2 linked regions of the Homo sapiens genome follow. The protein of the gene in region 1 binds, or shares a complex with, the protein of each later gene. Each region holds a gene or a part of one and is shown in the gene's direction. Other genes may lie near its edges.

The links. The genes of interacting proteins can lie anywhere in the genome.
Region 2: the proteins of ADM (region 1) and CALCRL are in contact, whole or in part, in a cryo-EM structure (PDB 6UUS), measured with the Homo sapiens proteins. Residues at the interface, in NP_001115.1 of Homo sapiens: Cys110 (codon at 6,123), Arg111 (codon at 6,126), Phe112 (codon at 6,129), Gly113 (codon at 6,132), Thr114 (codon at 6,135), Cys115 (codon at 6,138), Thr116 (codon at 6,141), Val117 (codon at 6,144), Gln118 (codon at 6,147), Lys119 (codon at 6,150), Leu120 (codon at 6,153), Ala121 (codon at 6,156), His122 (codon at 6,159), Gln123 (codon at 6,162), Ile124 (codon at 6,165), Tyr125 (codon at 6,168), Gln126 (codon at 6,171), Phe127 (codon at 6,174), Thr128 (codon at 6,177), Asp129 (codon at 6,180), Lys130 (codon at 6,183), Asp131 (codon at 6,186), Lys132 (codon at 6,189), Asp133 (codon at 6,192), Asn134 (codon at 6,195), Ala136 (codon at 6,201), Pro137 (codon at 6,204), Lys140 (codon at 6,213), Ser142 (codon at 6,219), Pro143 (codon at 6,222); in NP_001258680.1 of Homo sapiens: Val36, Thr37, Asp70, Gly71, Trp72, Asp90, Tyr91, Phe92, Gln93, Asp94, Phe95, Asp96, Pro97, His114, Ser117, Thr120, Trp121, Thr122, Tyr124, Thr125, Asn128, Val135, Ala138, Leu139, Leu141, Phe142, Thr145, Thr191, Leu195, Ala199.

Annotation. Positions count from the first base shown.
Region 1 is NC_000011.10:10,300,289-10,307,929, forward strand, and holds ADM (pro-adrenomedullin precursor), read left to right. Parts: upstream 1-4,784; 5' UTR 4,785-4,941; intron 4,942-5,391; 5' UTR 5,392-5,412; coding exon 5,413-5,510; intron 5,511-5,660; coding exon 5,661-5,810; intron 5,811-6,043; coding exon 6,044-6,353; 3' UTR 6,354-7,109; downstream 7,110-7,641. UniProt on the Homo sapiens protein: Adrenomedullin/ADM and proadrenomedullin N-20 terminal peptide/PAMP are peptide hormones that act as potent hypotensive and vasodilatator agents. Numerous actions have been reported most related to the physiologic control of fluid and electrolyte homeostasis.
Region 2 is NC_000002.12:187,445,253-187,452,801, reverse strand, and holds the start of CALCRL (calcitonin gene-related peptide type 1 receptor precursor), read left to right. Parts: upstream 1-4,549; 5' UTR 4,550-4,763; intron 4,764-7,549. UniProt on the Homo sapiens protein: G protein-coupled receptor which specificity is determined by its interaction with receptor-activity-modifying proteins (RAMPs). Together with RAMP1, form the receptor complex for calcitonin-gene-related peptides CALCA/CGRP1 and CALCB/CGRP2.

The DNA of each region.
Region 1 (7,641 bases):
CAGTGCTGGGTATATAATATATAATCAGTAAATATTTGTTGAAAGAATGAAAAAACTATCAATTCATTCAGGCTTATAAATCAGAATTGCTTCTTGGCTGAGCACAGTGGCTCATACCTGTAATCCTAGCACTTTGGTAGGCCAAGGCGAGTGGATCTCTTGAGATCAGGAGTTCAAGACCAGCGTGGGCAACATGATGAAACCACATCTCTATAAAAAGAAAAAAATATATATAAATATATATACATATATAAAATAATTGCTTCTTTCCAGGTGCTTCTAATCTGATATCACAGGATCCCTATCTGGAGACAAGTAGCATGATGGTTGCTTTCATTAACACCATTCTCTTTGGCTATGGATGATTCAAATGGCCTAATCATCTCTTTTATCATCCATTCATTAATGCCATTTATTGTGCCCTCTGTAGCAAATTTCTCTTGAAGTAATTTCATTTTGTCCTGTTACAGGTATTATTGTAACAAGCTTCTTTAGGTTTACTACTTTCTCTTCTCTCTCTCTCTTTTTTTTTTTTTTTCTTTGTAGGGATGGATTTTTGCCATGTTGCCAGGCTGGTCTTGAACTCCTGAGCTCAAGAGATCCACTTGCCTCAGCCTCCCAAAGTGCTAGGATTACAGGCACGAGCCACTGTACTGGACCATCTCTTCTCTTTCATTTGTTCTGCAGTAATTTACCTTATTTAAGCTTCAGGGAGGTTTGCCTTCTGGCTTTACCATGTACAAGAACTGACTGTTACTCTCTGCCTGTTTTGTACAGGAGCACAAAAATGAGGCAGCAAACGCATTACTTTTCTTTATGCTGATGCTCTGGAAAATATTATGCCCTAAAGAGGGAGGTTAACTGTCCTCCTTGCCCTTACCACTATAAACCAGACAGAAATTTAAAATATGGAAACAGTGTTTTTTATTCTGTGTCAGGGTTTTAAACTTGGTCAACCTCCCGGAACTGTATGCCTATTTTATACTTTAATCGGTTTATGTACATGTTCATTTTTCTGGAAAGGATCTATATTTTTATTAGGTCCTTAGAGAAGTCAGAGATCCCAAAAAAGTGCCCTGGGCTTTGTATCCTGCTTTACTTCTCCTTGTAAGTGATCAAATCCACAAGGCTGATTGTGTTCTTTCTCTAAATCACTTTGTGTTATGACTTCAGGATGCATCTTGAACTTTGTTTTCAAGTGAACTTTGTAAACAAGTCCTCAGCTTAAAAGACATTTTGAACTATATTAATAATAAATGCATCATAAAATTTCCTGTTTGATAAAGGAGGCATCTGAGATAATTATGCAATGCACTTAGCTACTCACATTTTAGTTATTCTTATTAATATCATTGATATTTATTATTTTTCAATGCTTCTCTGAAAGACCTGAGTATGGCCACTCTGGCTTTAAGAACTGTGTCCACAGTGCTAGCTGAGAAACCACTACCACATATTTTTTTAAACTCCAAACTTTACTAAGAATCAGGCTTGGATATAGGGCCTAAAAATCATTCAATTGGAATGTGAAGAAGTTGAAACACCATTACGCAAAAACCCTTTAGCATATGTGTATGTGTGTCTCCCTAATGTCAGGATGTACACATTTATTACAGTGGTTTGGAGGTTTATTTGTAATCTGACCTTTTGAAATTCTGGAGCACACAAAAAAAGTAGATCTTCATTAACAAGGATTTTTTTTTCTTTTTCTTTTCTCTTTTCTTGCCAGAAATTTAAAGATGTTTCTTCCTTCACTTCCTTCCTTCCTTGTACTGTCCTTGCTCAACGTGAATCTACAATCACTGCCACTTGAATGGATGCAACTTATGTTAATAAATTGCCAGGATCAGAACTCCCACTGCAGCATTTCCTTCTCCATAGAACCACTGAACCAGAAATGCATTCTAGTGATTTTTTTTTGTCGTTAACGATGATTAATTAAACAAACTCGAGATTTCACGAGAAAAAACATAGATGCCCAGATTTAACAAACTCCTTATCTTTTTTCGACTTAAACCCACGAAGCTTTGGGGAGCACTCTAGCCCCTGCTACTCACCCATGCAAGCGGGGTGCGCGCTCGCGCACACACTCACTCACTCCAAGATAGGGGCTTTCTAGGAAAATACTTTGAGCTGCCAATCCAAGATTTTACTTAAAGAATTGACTTGGTTCTCAAGTGACAGATCTCTAAGTGCCAGAGCGGCAAAGTGCACCAGGCTGATAAAGTGCATGCCAAGACTCTCAGGTGGGAATTCTTGTCACAGCCAAGAGGTTGCTGGCATAGGCACCCGAGGCTGGCAGAGCCTAGCCTCTGAGTCTCCCTACACTCCTGGGCTTGCTTTCCTTTTTGAAGCTGCCTGCAGCTCAAAGAGGAGTTTGAACCAAGGGCACTTGCTTCGCGATCCTCCTGGCAGAGCCACAGCTCAAGTTTCCCCCACGGAATCACGAGCTTTTGTAAAGGGCAGCGAGGAGGCAGCGAGGTGGCAGCGAGGTACAGTCGCAGAGTTCTCTGGAGAACGAACACCCCCGCCGCGCCCCACCCCCCAGGACTGGTGGAGACTGGAAGGAACGAGTCCAGACCACGGGACCTTCCCTGGCCGTGGGCCGACGCCTAGCTGTCCTTGACCTCCCCAGCAGTCGGAGGCGCGCGCGGGAGAAATGAAAGTAAAACCTGTCCTGGCGCGGAACCAAGTGGAAGCTGGCGACAAGTAGGTCGCATCCTCAGAGCGACTGATAGCCAGTCCTGGATCTGCGCGAAGAGCTTGACTCGCAGAGGATAAAGTGAAAGGAAAAGGAAATGGGAGACAAGGGAGAAGAACAATAGTTAGGCTGGGGAGGCTCCTGGTCACCGAGCAGGCGTTCAGTAATAGCTGCTGTCTGCGGTGCAGACGGACTAGTCGCCCGGCCAGGCCACTTCGGTGACTGCCCTGCGCCCAGCCGGGCGGCCGGATCCAGACCAGTGCGCCGCGCTGCACTCCTCTAACCCTCCGCGTCCCAACCCCTTACCAGGGCCAGGGTCAGGGCCCGGAATCTGTCCTCCGTCCTCAGATGGAATTCAGGTCCGCTCAGGTGACTCCTTCCAGGAAGAGTCCTTAAATAACTTCCGCGCGGCCATTTCTTCCCCAGGTGCAATGTCCACTGTTGAGTCCCGAGAGTGAAAAGGCAGCTAAGCCAGCAGTGCGCGGCCCAGACAGACCACTCTGGGCAAGGTCCGCGCGACCCACTGCCCAGCCGCCTTTGCACCGGAGCTCAGAGCCATATGGCAGAGTAGGAAGGAAGCTTAAAGGTCTGCTGGGGACCGGCTCTAAGATGGGGACTCGAGAGATGGGACATGACTCGCCCACCTTCACACAGCGAATTGCCGGGAGGTGAGGACTAGAAGCCTGTTTGGCTAGTGGTCTCGCACCTTTGGCCTCTCCGTCGAGTCGCTGGGCTTCAGGACATTCGATTAGAGGAGTGGTTAGTAGGACCCCAGAAACCCACAAGCACGAAGCAGGAAGCCCCGTGGCTTAGCCTTTCCTTCCCAGTTTGGCCCCCAGGAGAGAAGTAAGAAAGAGAAGAAGCTGTGATGAAAGAGCACAAACGGGTGACAAACGTGTCTAGCGTGATTCATCATGAACAGGCACAAATTCTTTGGGCGGGGGCTAGGACTCTCCTTTGCCCCTTGAGAAGTTGGTGACCCCAGCCTAGAGGAATCCACGCCGCGCCCCAGTCGGCCGTGCTAGCGTGTCGGGCCGAGTAGGGACTCTGCTGCTTCCTACCTGCAGGGTGACTTCCCCTCTCTGCAGATACCTCCCCTCTCTGAGCTTGAATTTTCTACCTGCTGAAATGGGAAAAGGAATGTTACCTTCCTTGCCTGACTCAAGGGTGGCTGTGAAGCTCAAAGTAGACTGGGATGTGGCCGTGCTTGGTAAACTGTAAAATGATTAGCATACGTGAAGCGTTAGTGTGCTCCCTGGCAGTCAGTCCTCACGTTTACGATGGATTAATGAAGGCAGCCAGGCACAATCTCAGGTTATGACCTTATAAGGCATAATAGGATTACAAGGAGGCAAAATGAAACAGTATATTTCCTCCTAATTTTGGTTATTCCTATGTTTCCAAATAGAAATGAAAATTCTGAAATTTCAGATAATTCCCCCCTCCAAATCCCAATTCTCAATTTAGCTTTTCTGAGCCTTGTCCCTACCGTGAAATCTTACTAGCTCACCCCGAAACGCCGGGGTCTTGGTCCTCTGGGGGACTAGTGAGTCCTGCTCCTCTCGGCTTTGCTCCGTCCCTGCCCCGGCCCCTCCGCGGGAGTCTGGGGTCGCGGCCCGGTCAGGCGCCAAGCCGGCAGGGGGGCGCGGTCCACTTGAGGCCACAGCTCCCCAGGTCCAGGGCTCGGGCCATCCGCGCTGTCCCTTCCGCGGGCTCTTGCTGTTCTTCGCCAGGAGGCTTTGCACTCCGGGCCGCATGGGTCCTGGATAAGGACCTCAAGAGGTTGTAGTGGCGCCCCTTCGCTCCGGCGTACTGTCTGAACCCTGTGCCCAAAGAGGGCTGTGGCAGTTCCTGCACCAACCGCCTGGAGCCCATACCTAAGCCCTCTGGGCACGAGGGACCTCCTCTCCCCCGCTCCCCCCTCCCCCCATCCCAACTCCAGCCCCAAAGGAAGCAATGCGCGCGTCCGAGAGCAGGAGCGCGCGTGGCTGAGGAAAGAAAGGGAAGGCAACCGGGCAGCCCAGGCCCCGCCCCGCCGCTCCCCCACCCGTGCGCTTATAAAGCACAGGAACCAGAGCTGGCCACTCAGTGGTTTCTTGGTGACACTGGATAGAACAGCTCAAGCCTTGCCACTTCGGGCTTCTCACTGCAGCTGGGCTTGGACTTCGGAGTTTTGCCATTGCCAGTGGGACGTCTGAGACTTTCTCCTTCAAGTACTTGGCAGATCACTCTCTTAGCAGGTAGGTGCCGCAGACCCTGCGGGTTAAGAGGTGGGGTGGGGGGCAGTGCTTGCCAAGGCCCTAAACTGGGAGCGCTGGGTGAGGGGAACAACCCACTTTGGAGGGTTCTCTGAGAGATAGATACACCCCATATCCTGGGCCCAGCTCGTGCACACAGCTGGAGGTCCAGAGACCCAGTCCCCTCTGCTCCGTCAGCCAAGTTCCAAGAAGTTGAGCAGAGACCCTCTGGGAGCCTGGCGGGGTGCAGCGGCCTCCCCTGCGGGGCCTGTCACCCGGCCGGCGCGTGCAAACGCCTCTGGCGCCTCTCTGCGCGGAGGGAGATAAGCGTCTGAGCCAGGGAAAGCGCGGGCTAAACCCGCCTCGCCGGGGCCCCTGCCCGCCCTCCGTGCCCCGCCCGGGCGGTGCAGCTGGCCCGGGTGCTCACGCTCGACTCTCTTTCTTCTTTTCCAGGGTCTGCGCTTCGCAGCCGGGATGAAGCTGGTTTCCGTCGCCCTGATGTACCTGGGTTCGCTCGCCTTCCTAGGCGCTGACACCGCTCGGTTGGATGTCGCGTCGGAGTTTCGAAAGAAGTGAGTCCGGGCAGCGCCTTCCCCCTTGCTGGTACCTGGCAGGCAAGGGGAACTGACCGTTGGTCCCGAAGGTCTAGAAGTGAATGGGAGCAGGGACAGGCCTGGGCGTCACCTGAACGCACGCGAATCGGGTCTGCTTGTGTTTTCCAGGTGGAATAAGTGGGCTCTGAGTCGTGGGAAGAGGGAACTGCGGATGTCCAGCAGCTACCCCACCGGGCTCGCTGACGTGAAGGCCGGGCCTGCCCAGACCCTTATTCGGCCCCAGGACATGAAGGGTGCCTCTCGAAGCCCCGAAGACAGGTAACTACGCCCTGTGCTGTCCAGGGACGGGAGGGAAGGAAGGTGTGCGGGAGGAGTTCTCTGTCTCCACTCCCCTGGCCCGGGGGATCGTCGGGGCTGGACCGCAGCTCAGATGGCGCGAGCAGTTTCCAGCTCCCTCTGGCTCTAGAATGGCTCCCGTTCCCGGTGTTGGGGCCAAAGCTCTGCTTGATGGGGTCTCAAGTTGCCTTTCTTCCCCCTCCCCCCGCCCGCAGCAGTCCGGATGCCGCCCGCATCCGAGTCAAGCGCTACCGCCAGAGCATGAACAACTTCCAGGGCCTCCGGAGCTTTGGCTGCCGCTTCGGGACGTGCACGGTGCAGAAGCTGGCACACCAGATCTACCAGTTCACAGATAAGGACAAGGACAACGTCGCCCCCAGGAGCAAGATCAGCCCCCAGGGCTACGGCCGCCGGCGCCGGCGCTCCCTGCCCGAGGCCGGCCCGGGTCGGACTCTGGTGTCTTCTAAGCCACAAGCACACGGGGCTCCAGCCCCCCCGAGTGGAAGTGCTCCCCACTTTCTTTAGGATTTAGGCGCCCATGGTACAAGGAATAGTCGCGCAAGCATCCCGCTGGTGCCTCCCGGGACGAAGGACTTCCCGAGCGGTGTGGGGACCGGGCTCTGACAGCCCTGCGGAGACCCTGAGTCCGGGAGGCACCGTCCGGCGGCGAGCTCTGGCTTTGCAAGGGCCCCTCCTTCTGGGGGCTTCGCTTCCTTAGCCTTGCTCAGGTGCAAGTGCCCCAGGGGGCGGGGTGCAGAAGAATCCGAGTGTTTGCCAGGCTTAAGGAGAGGAGAAACTGAGAAATGAATGCTGAGACCCCCGGAGCAGGGGTCTGAGCCACAGCCGTGCTCGCCCACAAACTGATTTCTCACGGCGTGTCACCCCACCAGGGCGCAAGCCTCACTATTACTTGAACTTTCCAAAACCTAAAGAGGAAAAGTGCAATGCGTGTTGTACATACAGAGGTAACTATCAATATTTAAGTTTGTTGCTGTCAAGATTTTTTTTGTAACTTCAAATATAGAGATATTTTTGTACGTTATATATTGTATTAAGGGCATTTTAAAAGCAATTATATTGTCCTCCCCTATTTTAAGACGTGAATGTCTCAGCGAGGTGTAAAGTTGTTCGCCGCGTGGAATGTGAGTGTGTTTGTGTGCATGAAAGAGAAAGACTGATTACCTCCTGTGTGGAAGAAGGAAACACCGAGTCTCTGTATAATCTATTTACATAAAATGGGTGATATGCGAACAGCAAACCAATAAACTGTCTCAATGCTGATTCATTCTCTCGGCTCGGCTCTCACGTCTAGGAAGGGAGGGTGCCCTGGTCCCGGCCCGCCCAGGAGCCTTGGGGTCCCGCCGCCGGGCTTGGGAAGGTGGGACAGCGGCGCGTGCAGGTGCTGGCCCTACTCTGAGCGGGCTGAGCTGTCACGAGCTCTGTTCTCTGTGTGGGGCGCGCAGAACACGTGTCCTGGGTGCGAATCAGGGCTTCGCGGAGACGCCCGAGGTCACCGCCTGGCGTGGCGGCCGGCGGGGGGTGGGTAGGGGGAGCCCTAGTGGGTTGGCGAGCCTGGACTCTCGGGTTGCGCAACGGAGTCCTAGATTTATAGGGTTGCTCACAGAACCCGGCGCGAAAGCGAGCTTCGAAGAGTTGGGGTGGTCTCTGAGGCCTTCTAAGAGAGGCGTTCCCCCTGCCTGCCGCGGTTGTTAAAGTTCCAAGCCGCCCTAGCAATGCGTGGGGACACCTCCGGAAAACCCAGTAACCCCTAGTAACCCCGGGTCTGCCCGGGCCTGAGCGCCCGCGGGCCGCT
Region 2 (7,549 bases), on another chromosome or scaffold:
CACATTAAATGCATATCCAGAATTAAAAAGGGCATCTTTTTTGATGCTAACTAAAACCATCCTAGAAATAGTAAGAACTATTTTAAACTCTTCTGGAAAGAAGATTTGGGTTTCCCAAATAAATTACTCACACACTCTTAGTATTTATGTGCTACTTGTCATTGCTCTATTGATAAGTATGGCTAAGTTCACCATATACTGAATAATATTTTTTTCTTCAAACCAGAGCATTTTTGAGCCTGAAATTATGAATTGGGACTGCCCCAGAAAACTAGGACATATGATCACTCTATTGAAGGTATTTCCCCTCAGAAAGTTCATTGTGTACTCCCATTTAAAGTAAGCATTTATAATTTTGTTGGATTTAAAAATCCATTTGAATTAGTCCATGACATAGCTCACTAGCCAGTACTAGCACTTTATTCTAGCAATAGCCACCCCTCCAACACTCATGAATATCTGTAAGAAAATACTAAGTTCGCAGGAAGATCTAAATCCATCAGGATATAAGAATTTTTAAAATAGGCAAATGTTTGGCCAATTATTTTTTATGTTACTTGGCTTTCTTGAGAAAATACATTATTAAATACTGAAAGAAACTCTACATATAGGCTATAAAATAGTTTTATTTATCTGTATATTAACCTGGTATACATTTCTGTATATCTGACCTGATATATATACTGTTCATTTCAAACATAGTTTTCTGCACCTTCCAAATTCTTATTCATAGTAACTATTTTTAAAATAATATTGTAATCTTCTTTAAAATGATAGCTATGTGCCCAATTAAAGTGAAAAACGGCCCTTTGGTTTTAGTAATAGATAATAGCATATTCACTCTCATGTCCCAGACATTGTACCCAGATTCTTTTACTAAATGCAATTTATTTTTGTTTTGAAAAGCAACTTGAAAAGTGCTAACAGCAATTGCTAGGTAAAATAATAAAAGGTTGGGTCAACTTATTTCCTTGCTAGAAGTAGTTTTTTAATGTAAAGCTTTTAAACATATAAGCTTCTGATGTAAAGTTTATGTGTTTCTCCTCAAATTATTGGTGCATTTATCATAAGGCAAGTTATATATAATATTGCTGACTGCATAAATTATCACCAAGTATAAGTAATTGCTTTCAGACAATTAAGAACACAGAAGAATTATTAACATAAAATAATAACTTTTAAAACTTCAGAATAATTATTTTAAAAGTCTTTCTTTTGACTTGTTCTTGCACTCTCACTAGGGAAAGTCTGTCCTTAATATATTTCCTGTAAAAGTGTTCTGCTTTATTTTGTTTGTTCTTGTGGCAAGAATTATGCTCCAAGGCAGTATCCATACAAATTCAAAATAAGTGGTCAGTTTGGTCAGTAGAAAATTAAATTTGTCAAACCACATTTTGGTCTGGTTTAACTAACATATTCAATATAAACAGTAGCCCAGAAACTTGGAGTTAGCCTACTCCTAATTTTGAGTCAACTTGCATTTGACATAGTAACTAGTATCCCCTATTGGAAGAAAAGGTCGCTTGTGAGCCTTATGTGTGAGCACAAATAAAAGCACAAATCCTGCATGTAGGATGCTAAAATGAAAATGTGTGACTGTCCATCATTACATGTATATATTTCTACACTTATACACCACTCCTCACTTCTACAGAAAACCTTATTGCAGTGCTCTGCATCATTACCTCTAGATTCTATGTTAGCAGCATCAGTTGCTAATTTCACAGAATTTGGCCCTTGACTTCTCATGTGCTAGTCAATCTGTTCATTAAAGGACTAGATAGCAGGGAACATTCTATTTTTACTTATCTCACTAAAACACAGTTAGCACATTACCTAGCTCAAAATACAAATTTGGTCACTACTAATTAAATTATTGCAAGTGGCTTTAATGTCTTCTGAAGAAAGATTATAATATATAAATCCATATAATGCCACGTTGGCTCAAAATTGCTTCATTGATTATTGAAATGTTTTCATTTAGCTCTGCTACAGTTTTCCAAACATTTGCCTTCATGTTTCAGTAGGTATTAGAGAAGTTTTTATGATCTATCTTATCACTTGCTCCTACATAACTTAGAATACCCTGAATGCCTTCCTGGAAGTCCTTGTACCATTTATTTTTTCTGAAGTTTATAAAATGGCAGCTCTTGAGGATTACTAGGATGCAATTTTCCTGTTATGTCTAAATAAGAATTAAAGATGATATTAATAAAATTTATCAAGGAGTCTTCATGGACTACAGCCATGGGCCCATGTGTACGTCAACTTAAATATAAATGATACAACTTCTACTAGACACCCCATAAAGTATAGCACTTGATAGAGAGTAGAAGAGAAAGAGCATTGGATTAAGGGTCTTATGACATGAGCTCAAAACATGAATTTTTTTCCTTCAGTAGACCTTACTAGTATTGGGCAAATGAAATCAATGAATCTCACCAGGCGCAGGGGCTCATGTCTGTAATCCCAGCACTTTGGGAGACCAAGGTGGGCGGGTCACCTTAGGTCAGGAGTTTCAGACCAGTCTGGCCAACATAGTGAAACCCTGTCTCTACAAAAAAATACAAAATGTTAGCTGGGTGTGGTGGCGGGCGCCTGTAATCCCAGCTACTTGGGAGGTTGAGGCAGGAGAATTGCTTGAACCCGGGAGGTGGAGGTTGCAGTGAGCTGAGATTGCGTCATTGCACTCCAGCCTGTGCAACAAGAGCAAAAACTCCATCAAGAAAGAAAGAAGGAAGGAAGGAAGGAAGGAAAGAAAGAAAAATGAATCTTTGGAAAGACGAAAATATCAATGCTTTTATAAACATATTGGGAAAAGTTTTAGTTTTCCATGATTTAATTAAATTCAAAAACTATATATTAATCTCTTTATAGGATTCATATATTACACTTAGCATGGAAGATGAGAAGACATGACCCATTATTACTTTCATATTAAATCTAGTATTTGTTTTTCTCTGAATTTCAAGATGGGAACATGAAGCCTAAAAAGCTTTGTCAAGATCACACCAGACAGTATCAGAACCGGTTCACCAGTGTAACTCAGTTTCTTACAAGTCTTTTCTATTAACCATAATTATAGAGATGAAAGTATATCTATTTTTTATATGTCTGTATTTTGTAATCAATATTGATCTCACTGGTCTTAAAATCAAAGATTGTATAAACATTTTCTTCCACTAATTCAGACAATAAAAATGTCAACATGAGCACCCTGCTTTAAAAACATGATATTCCTGAATTTATTTTGCCTTTACCTCCTTTGTCTGCCTACAAGGTGTATGGCACCTCATTTTATCCTGGAATTGCACTAACAATTTACTAAGAGTTGAATGATCCTCACCGTATCTTATCTATTTCAAAATGTTATGAAATTTGTCGATTCAAAGCCTTAGACATAAAATCTATCTCTTCTAGTTTATAGATGAGAAAATTTATGCCCTGATAAATTAAGTGACTTTTAGTGCTGTTTAGGTTATAGGGATTATAATTATTGCTTCATATCGAACATTTACCAAATTATAAAAATGATAAAAGCATTTTAAATTTACATTTTCCCCTGATCATATCCAATGATGTATTAAACATATTCAGGAAAAACTATGCTTTGAGATGAAATTTTGTCTAAGAAATAAAGTATCCTTTGTATTTATATTATTTTATAATATTATGTTTACAACATCTATATTTTCTTTAAGATTATATTGACTTACAAATATTGTGGTATAAATTATTTTATATTATAAATAACATAATTATACCAAATATTTTTAAATGTGTGCAATAATTTTAAAATTATGAATTATTCAAAAGGCTATTTTGTCAAATATATATACTTATATATTATAAAAGAAACACTCTATACACACACATACACAACCTGAATTTATAACACATACACTCATGTTCTTATGAAGAAGGTAAAGGAAAAAATAAAAGATTTAAAAACTGCAGGATAAAGTTTCTTGATCTAATTAACTGATTAGGAACTGCACTTAGGAACTGATGGAGGAACAGCACCCAATTAGCAGAGCTCCAAATTAAGAAGAGCCAAATCACAAAACCAGTTATGATGAATACAGTTAATTTTTTTTTCTGTGTTGTGCTATGAACACAGATTTGTTAGATTTTTTTTCCTGGATACTTTGTAAGCTATAATTCAACACACACACACACACACACACACACACACACACACACACGCCTAACTCCTTTGATTCTTTGAGCAGAATACTATATTCAGATTTCCTTCAAATCACAAGTAGCTTGTTTGGCAAGTTCTAACAGAACTCAGTCAAGGTGAAAGCCAGCCAGCTTTTTACTGGTAACAATGTATTCACACAGCCTATGATCTCTCTCTGTTCAGGCTGCTTCTTGCTCTTGTCTCACAATAAGAAAGGAGTGCTGCTTTCCTGGGGTATGCTATTTGAGAAAGAAAGTAACCTAACACTAACTGCAGGCGGGGTCAGAGTGATGTAACAGGAAGCTCTGATGTTTCCCTTCTGCTGCTGATCACTTACAATCTGACAACACTTACAATCTACTCAGAACAACCTCTCTCTCTCCAGCAGAGAGTGTCACCTCCTGCTTTAGGACCATCAAGCTCTGCTAACTGAATCTCATCCTAATTGCAGGATCACATTGCAAAGCTTTCACTCTTTCCCACCTTGCTTGTGGGTAAATCTCTTCTGCGGAATCTCAGAAAGTAAAGTTCCATCCTGAGAATATTTCACAAAGAATTTCCTTAAGAGCTGGACTGGGTAAGTGCACATTCAAAATAAATATATTTATTCTAAGTAGTATTCTCATATAGTTTGGCAATGTTTCTATTATAGAATTTAGTAGATAGCACTGAAATAATGTTGAAACATAGTCTCACTTATTTCACATGCTAGAGAAAATACAGCCTACTACCCCAACATGAATACAAAATCTAATACTACTAGATAATATTGTTTACCATGGTATTCTAGAAAATAAATTTAGCAAGTATTAAAAATCTAAATGGATTAAAAGACATATTTCTGAACAAATACCTTAATCACAGAACAATGTCTTTTAAAATTAGCTCTAATATTAGCTAAGCTTGAATCTTGACAACTGGAAAACATTTCTCCCCCCGGAAGGGTCTTTAAACTTTCCATGTTATCAGCTGTAAGAAAGAGGTGAAAGAATAACTACTTAATGGGTCTCGGAGTCTCACTTACTCTGTGGTTGATCATAATGCAGAGTTTTGAAAAGTAATCACTTTGTATTTATTACATTTGCTTTTATTTGCCTTTCACCTTTATTTACACATATATCTGTAACTACTGAACTAATTTTTGTGTTCATTGTTGCCAGATGTGTTTAAATCTCTCTTCTGCTAACCCTGAACTGTTTGCTCTTTATTTGGATCATGGTGTCGGCTACAAAGAAAAAAAAAAACCTAGAGTTTAGGAAATGTAGATTTTTAAAACAATTCTTAATTTTGAAATCTTTAAGAGAATACTTCAACTTGACTGGTTCCCCTCTGCAAGCTTTTGGAGGGGGGTGTGATACCACGATATCTGTGGATAAAGAAACGTGACAGCTTTCCCAAAGAAGTATATTAGACGATTAAACAAAGAAATTAAAGTATTTATTAAAAAAGAATTTCCAGGATGGAACTTACTGAAATGTTGGATAAAACATCTGTTAATGCTCATTCCGATAGTACAGACTGTCCTGAACAATTTAAGAAACTAATGTCTGCTTAATAAATTGTTTGTGTAGATATATCACAAATTTGTTGCTGGAGAAAGTTTGATGTCAAATTTTAAATGATGTTGATAGATATGATTTTTAAGTTATATATTTTCTTACCTAAATGCAATTATACTTTCCAAGATGTCCTGCATTGGAAGCATCCTGTACTTAATCACTTATATCTGGCACATTAATAATAGACTACAAACATCCTGAGTAACTCCTCAGTAATTTACAACTCAATTTTTCCACAAATTCCTCAATATAATGAAAATTTAAATTAATTCTTAGATTTGTGATTCTTTAAGAGTATCATGGCTGATTTCTCTCTCTTTTCAATCTTCAGTTGTACTGAGTTCCCTGACACATGTGTAGAAATGGGAAAAGTGTTTTTAGAATGTGACTTTAGCCATTATATAAATGGGGGAGAAAGTGGAAACAACACATTTACTAACCCAATGACGTGGGTTAGTAACAAAAATTAAAACAACATTATTTTTAATTCAGATTATTTTCTTAGGAGGTATTATATTATGATCATATTTTATAATGAGAAACTCTCCAAACTTCCTTAATTTTTGTTTAATTGCTAGTCCCAAACCCATAATTTTCTTGTATAATTTGATTAAATTTTTATGAGTTTACTAACAGTATGGTTTATAATCTTTGTTTTCCAAAAATACTTTTGAAAAACACTAGGCGATGAACATTGAAGGTCATTAGCCAAAGGAAATATTTGAGGACATAACTGGAAGTTTGAAATAAAAATTCATATTATTGTATTCAAAATGTGCTTTCTTTAATGATAAGAAAATATCAGAATATCAATGCATGCTTTTAGCCATAAAGAAATGAATTTACTTTGCTAGAAGATGTTTCCTTGTAGCATCATAAAATCAATGCATTGAGCCTACAGTCAATGCTAAATATGTAAAATGAAACATAGAATTGAAATAGTATGTGAATAATGTGAGCTGAAATATGTTTTACCTGAAATATTCTATTTCTTAAAGAGATAATGTTTTTGATTATTGTTACAAGATTTTTTTTCTATCTTACATACCAAAGCATTATACTAAAAGTTAAAATATGTAGATTTTTATAATATATGAAACTGTTCATTCACTTTGAAAAATTGGAATAACAAAAACATTGTTTAAAATAATACTGGGTCTGTAATTTTAAAAATTATTTTAAATGAATGGGCAAGATTCATATGGTTTTCTCACTGGTGACTCCGAACATGTAATGAATTTTAAATGAAGACAATACTTAGCATATTTGTAAGAATATTTATGTTCACCTGCACATATTATACTATTTTTTCATGCATAACAGAAATAAAATTTCATAAAAAATTGAAAATAATATAAAGGTAAAATGATTACCTTGTTTGCTTTACAGATTAATGTGGACAAAGTATTTGATAAACACATAAACACTAACTGAATTTCAGTTAATAGCATCATTATATATTTCTAACTAGATCATATTTGGAAACATTGTAAAAATATTTTGCTACCAATTTTATCTACATGGCAAAAGTTTGATAGTAACTTAATTTTAAAAGATTGTTCTAGATCTTTATAGAAAAAATATAATAATCTTTAAAGGATCAAAAACTTATTCACTAAACAAAATTTATTTCATACTCTATATATGACTTTTAATACAGCTTTATCAAATAATTCTGGTTTTGGAGATATAATGATTACAGTATCGACTTTTCACAATACAAATATGTTCAAGAAATAGTATTTAAAATCTTTTGCTTTATTGCGTATCTTATGCTTGGCATTCAGAGAAGCTATTAAACCAT